Regions from separate parts of the Homo sapiens genome. Here region 1 is linked to region 2. The links come from fine-mapping of genetic effects on gene expression. A gene starts in region 2. The other region holds a variant in brackets. All regions are shown on one strand. Distances are from middle to middle.

What was found.
Region 1: its variant is fine-mapped to the expression of ALPK3 in whole blood (TOPMed, PIP above 0.99).

The regions. Positions count from the first base shown.
Region 1 is chr15:84,785,086-84,787,984 of GRCh38, reverse strand. The region is part of intron 4 of ZNF592 (zinc finger protein 592); the gene reads right to left. Among named protein-coding and RNA genes, the nearest start is that of ALPK3, 31 kb to the left of the region's middle. The variant G/A (reference allele first, on the strand shown) is at 1,658.
Region 2 is chr15:84,816,157-84,819,055 of GRCh38, reverse strand. ALPK3 (alpha kinase 3) reads right to left here and starts at 1,700. Exons shown (of 14, transcript NM_020778.5): 1 at 1,461-1,700. The coding sequence starts at 1,603. RefSeq lists an enhancer at 2,072-2,602.

The DNA.
Region 1 (2,899 bases), 31 kb after region 2:
GTTAAACCCAGAATTGTTCTGGAAAATGCTCAGAACACATGACCCAATTTCTTCAACAAGTCAATGGCATGAAAAGAGGGTGCCTACTAGGATGGAGTGGGAAGAGGTACTGTTCCAGACTGAGATATTTATGAAACATAAACAAACGTGATGTATAGCCCCATGTTCAGATCCTGACTCAAAATAATCCCAACTGTAAAAAGACATTTTTTGACATAACTGGAAAAATCTGAATATGAACTTGTAGTAGGTAATACTAAGGGACTGTTATTAATTGTGTTGGGTGGAATGACAATATCCATCTGGCTGACATCCTGCCCCAACAGCGTGGCTTGGAAAGCAAGAGGAAGGATGAAAGAACTCCCTGGGTCACTGCAGAGGGAGGCATGCTCCATTCAGGGGCAGACTCCCAGGAAGAAGATGGAAATCCCAAACCGATGCTGTTCCCACAGTCCCTGCTGTGGTGTGGAGCCCAACTATCTGTCCACCCCCTGCCCTGGACACATGGGCTGAAGCTAGATACTGTCCTGTGGAAAACCCAAGCCCAGCAGCCATCAAGCCTAGTTTTTAATCCCATAGCTCAGGGCTCACCCTTTCCCTGAGACTCAGAAGCCACAATGAGTGGCATGAGATTTTGTGAGGGATTTGGAGCTGGCTGAGAGAGGCCTGATAGCCTTCTGTGCACTCCTTCCCTTCCTGTCGGCGGGTGCTCTTCTCCAGCTCCCACTAGGGCAGAATGACACAGAGAGGATGTAAGATGAGAAAGGTGCCATGCCAGCCTGGGATCCTACACCCAGACCTCTGCCTACTCAAATTTTAGAAGATGCACAAGGAGGCGGGTGTGATGGCTCATGCCTGTAATCCCAGCACTTTGGGAGGCCGAGGCAGGTGGATCACTTGAGGTCCGAAGTTCAAGACCGGCCTGGGCAAACATGGCAAAACTCCATCTCTACTAAAAATACAAAAATTAGCCAGGCATGGTGGCGCACACCTGTAGTCGCAGCTACTCAGGAAGCTGAGGCAGGAGAATCACTTGAACCCAGGAGGCAGAGGCTGCAGTGGGCCGAGATCGCACCACTGCACTCCATCCTGGGCAACAAAGCAAGACTCCGTCTCACAAAAAAAAAAAAAAAAAAAAAAAAAGATACGTAAGGACCAGTGTGAAAAAATCCCAGGCCCAGGCATCAGACCTCCACTGCCATGGGGCCTCCTCATGGCCCCTTGACTCAGATAAAGTAAACCTGGCCCAACTCAACCATGCTGGGGCAGCAAGAACACTGAAGCCCCAGGGGAAGAGACCCAGAGTGCCCACACCCCATCTGACGCATCAGAAGAAAAATGCAAACTGAAACAGAGCAGGAGGAGATGAGAGGCCACAGTGGGATCCTATAGCACCTTCTGGCCCCTTTGGGGGGCTGAGTCCTCTGCAGAAGCCCTACAGGCCCGCCAAACTCAACCTCTGACCTCTACCCTAATATTTCCAAGACCAGCCTCATGCATAACAATGTCCTCTTCTTCAAACCCACTCTGCACTCTCATATTCCTTTGCTCCCTATACTCAAAACACCCTTGCCCCTCCTACTCCTCCAAACTCATCCTTGCAAGCCCAACTTAAATTTCACCTCCACACAGCATCTTCCTTACGCATGGAGTCATC[G/A]TGAATTAGTCCCTCTGGGGCACTCTGCGCAACTAAGTTTATAACCTTGGTTTAGCCCCACTCTCAGTTGGCCATATACTGTAGCTGTTTGGGTGGTGACCACTGCCCTTGCTAGGCCACTGTAAGCTCCTGAAGGTTAGACTCCCTTCTGCCGGCATCCCCTGGTTGGCATAGACCCCCAGCCCATGCACAGTGGGCACTCAGGGAACACATGCAAAGCTCAACAGCTACCAACACATGCACAGAACCCTGGCTGAACTGAAGCAAAAAGAGCTGTTTTACTTTCCTCCCAGGCCTCTGTAGCACCAGCTTAGGGAAGCACCATGAGGGGTGGGTCTGGCTATGTCATGAAGAGAACCACCTTCTGGAGGCCTCTTTCTTCAGAGAAACCACTAACACATAACATAGACACAGAAGGTGCCAAAGGGTATTCTCAGCGCAGAAGGCTTTTTTTTTTTTTTTAAATGAATCTCATCAAGCATAACCAAGAATCAAAACAAGCAGACAAGCACAGTTGCTTTCCTGGAGTGGTGAGAACGCAGTTGAAAGAAGGAGGCTCCATAAACCTCTGCCACAGGCCCCACATGTCTGTCCACTCTCCTTCCTCCTATCCCAGCCCTGCCATTGGCCCTACTGCAGTTTCCACAAAAGGACTCTGCAAGAACAGCTGTGTCACTGCAGGGCAGAACAACAACTTATTAAAGACACAGTTCTTTGGCTGGGGACAGTGGCTCACGCCTGTAATCCCAGCACTCTGGGAGGCTGAGGTGGGCAGATCACTTGAAGCCAGGAGTTCAAGAACAGCCTGGGCAACATGGTGAAACCCTGTCTCTACTAAAAATACAAAAATTAGCTAGGCGTGGTGGCACATGCCTGGAGTCCTAGCTACTTGGGAGGCTGAGGCATAAGAATCACTTGAACCCCAGAGGCAGAGGTTGTAGTGAACTGAGATCCCACCAGTGCACTCCAGCCTGGGTGACAGAGTGAGACTCCGTCTCAAGAAAAAAAAAAAAAAGACAAAGTTCTTAGAACAGACTGAGGTGCAGGGGCAGTGACTCAGCTATCTCTGTCCCCAAGTTCCTTGGTCACATGCTAAGACTGTGCTGACACCTGCCAGAGACCAGAGGGAGATCATCCAGTAAAGACCTATCTCGGGCCTGACACTGGGCCTTGACAGACCCTTTGAGGGGAAGTTGAGTGGAACACGGGACACGTCCGTAAATACACTTGCTAAATTAGGGT
Region 2 (2,899 bases):
TTCCTCCCTTCCTTCATTGCTGCTGTCTCCAAGAAGGACCCTGGTTCCGCCTCTTCTGTTTGTTCCACTGGTATTGACAAAGGCCAAACACAGGAGGCAAAGCCCAGACAAGTCACTGTGACAAATGTGAGGCTCCCACAAGGGAGTCAGCTTCTCTAAGGACTGGAATAAATGTCCAAATTTCATTCTGGTTTATCTGTAGAGCCAGGAGTAAGAAAAAGGGGTATTCTTTCCTGGCAGCCAGGGGCCTTGTTGAGTCTGACTCAGTCACTAACATCAGTCCTCAGCCCTGCCCCAGACATGTGACACCATTTGACGAGTTTTATGCAGAAACCGGTTCCGGTTACATTTGAACTTTCCCAACTCCAAGGTCAGTAGGACTCAGCCAATTCACGAGGAAGTGCCCAGGACTTTTCCTGAATGTCCTCGATGCCTGTTTTTATGCTGTTTTAGGAATGGAGAACAAGAGGTCTCTGGACAGCCTCTTGGAGGAATGGCCGTTTTCTGCATAATACACAAGTCAAGTTCTCAGGCTATGAAACAACCACTATCTCAACACATTTCCCTTTGGAAAACAGACTCCAGAAGTGAAGGGAAACTGAGCTGCCCACAGGGGGCAGGAAGTGTCTGTCTCCATGGCAATGCGCCTGTCCACGTGTGCCTGTGTGCCTTTGATTTCCTGGATGCCTGTCTATTGTCTTTGTGTCTTTATATCTGTGGGTGGCCTAGCTGCTAAAACAAAGCTTCCACACCTCTTGAACTCTTGGAAGACCAGTGAAGGGCTCATCAGTTCCACACCTCCCTTGGCATTTCACTTCCCCAAACTGGACAGGGCACTTGGCTCCCTCAGAGCTGCAAGTCCTTAATTCCCAACATCTCCAGACAGTACCTCATCCCACCCCCTATCTCACCAGCCCCCACTCAGGTCCTGGGGAGGACCCAAGTCCTCGGCCCAGTAGAGGAACCTTATTTACAAAGGTTTATTTCTTCCTGGAGAACCTCCCCACCCTGAGCTAAGCAGCTCCTACTCTGGGCAGCCCCCCAGCACCCTCTCCCTGTCCCCACCAGTGCTCTCCCCCTCCCTTCCTGCCAGGGAGGAATTTCAGCCACTCTGGCTTTCCTTATCGCTAGCTGTGGAATCCCAAGCCAGGGAGTAGCAGGGTAGGGGGCAGGGGAGATAAGGAAAGCCTTCAGACCCCATGAAATCACTCCAAAGTGGAGCCTTTGTCCTCTCTTGAGCCTCGAATTGCCAGAGGCCTGAGGCGCATGGATCAGGAGGGGTCACAAGGGGCTATGAAAGCCATTCCAGCCCGGCCATGTCCCCAGGCCCTGGGCCTTGGGGCTGAGAGGGCTCGAGGGCGCAGGCCCAGCCCAGGCCTCCAGGGGCCAGGCCGCCCTCACAGGGACTGATCCCAGGGCATCGCCGGCCCGACGCCGCCCTGCCCCTTGGTGCCACTTACCTGGTCTCGGGCCGCACGCTGAGCAGGTAGCTCCGGCTGGCTGGGCTGGGGATCCACACGGGGCCGTCGTCCTCACCGTCGCCCCCCGCCCCCGACCGCCCACCCGCGCCCCAGCCCCGGCTGGGGGCCCTCCGCGACCCCATGGCACCGCCCTCCCCGACCGCCGGCCCCGCACTCGCCGCTGCCTCGCCTGTCCTCCAGGCCCCGGCCCCCGGGCCCCTGCCCGCCGCCGCCGCTCCCGCCCGCGGCTGACGCGCGCCCCTATTTATAGCCGGTGGCCGGGCCGTCGTCACCTGCTGCTGTCCCTCCCCTGGCCTGGCCCGACCCGGGCAGCGCGGCTTGGAGACGCCGGGGGGCGCCGGGGCCCATGTGCCCGCCCCAGGGCCGGCTCCGAGTCCGCTCCCTTGGCGGCCCTGGTGTCTGCAGTAGCGCCGCGTCTGGAGAGGCCCGGGAGGCCTCGGGAGGAAGGCGCAGCGGGTGTCCTGGTCATGGAGGACAGGCCCCTTCGTGGAGCTCCCGGGACCCGGCTCCCGGCCGGCCTGCTCATGTCCCGTGTGGCATATGAGGGGTCCACGAGGCCTGGCCGGGGCCAGGGGAGCCAGGTCAACCGCTGGCCAGCTTGGGCTAGACCGCGGGAGACCAGGGAGCCAAAGAACCAGCCCTCTTCCTGGCACCAGCCGTGACTGACCCTCGCCTTGCCTCGCCAGTGGCTGTTGGCCCAGCACATAGACAAGCCAAGCCACCTCCATTAGTGACCTGAGTCCCTGGGAGGCCGGAACCCCGTGGGATCTCTCTCCTGTCTCCCCCAACACCCCCAGTAACTAGCATAGATTAGGGGCTCAATTAACACTTCTAGATCACTCCTTCGGCCTCCATTTCTCAGCACCAGAGGGGGAAATGGGCTGAGTCCTGATACCCAGAAAAATAATCAAATCATGCAACAATTTCCAAGAACTAGTGCCAAGCACTGCCGAAACCTGGTCTAAATATTGGAAGTCCCCACAGACTTTTTTTTTTTTTGAGACAGAGTCTGGCTCTGTCGCCCAGGCTGGAGTGCAGTGGCGCTATCTCGGCTCACCGCAACCTCCGCCTCCCGGGTTCATGCCATTCTCCTGCCTCAGCCTCCCGAGTAGCTGGGACTACAGGCGCCCCACACCACGCCCGGCTAATTTTTTTCTTTGTATTTTTTAGTAGAGACGGGGTTTCACCGTGTTAGCCAGGATGGTCTCGATCTCCTGACCTCGTGATTCGCCCGCCTGGGCCTCCCAAAGTGCTGGGATTACAGGCGTGAGCCACCGCGCCCGGCCGGAAGTGCCCACAGACTTTTTTATCCATCCTTCTTTCTCCTATTTTCCTGAGAGCATCCAGAAAGTACCTGAAGCTAAATGGCTGTAATTGTTAGAAAGTGGGAGCAAAGGAGTCCAACCCTTCTGTTTTCG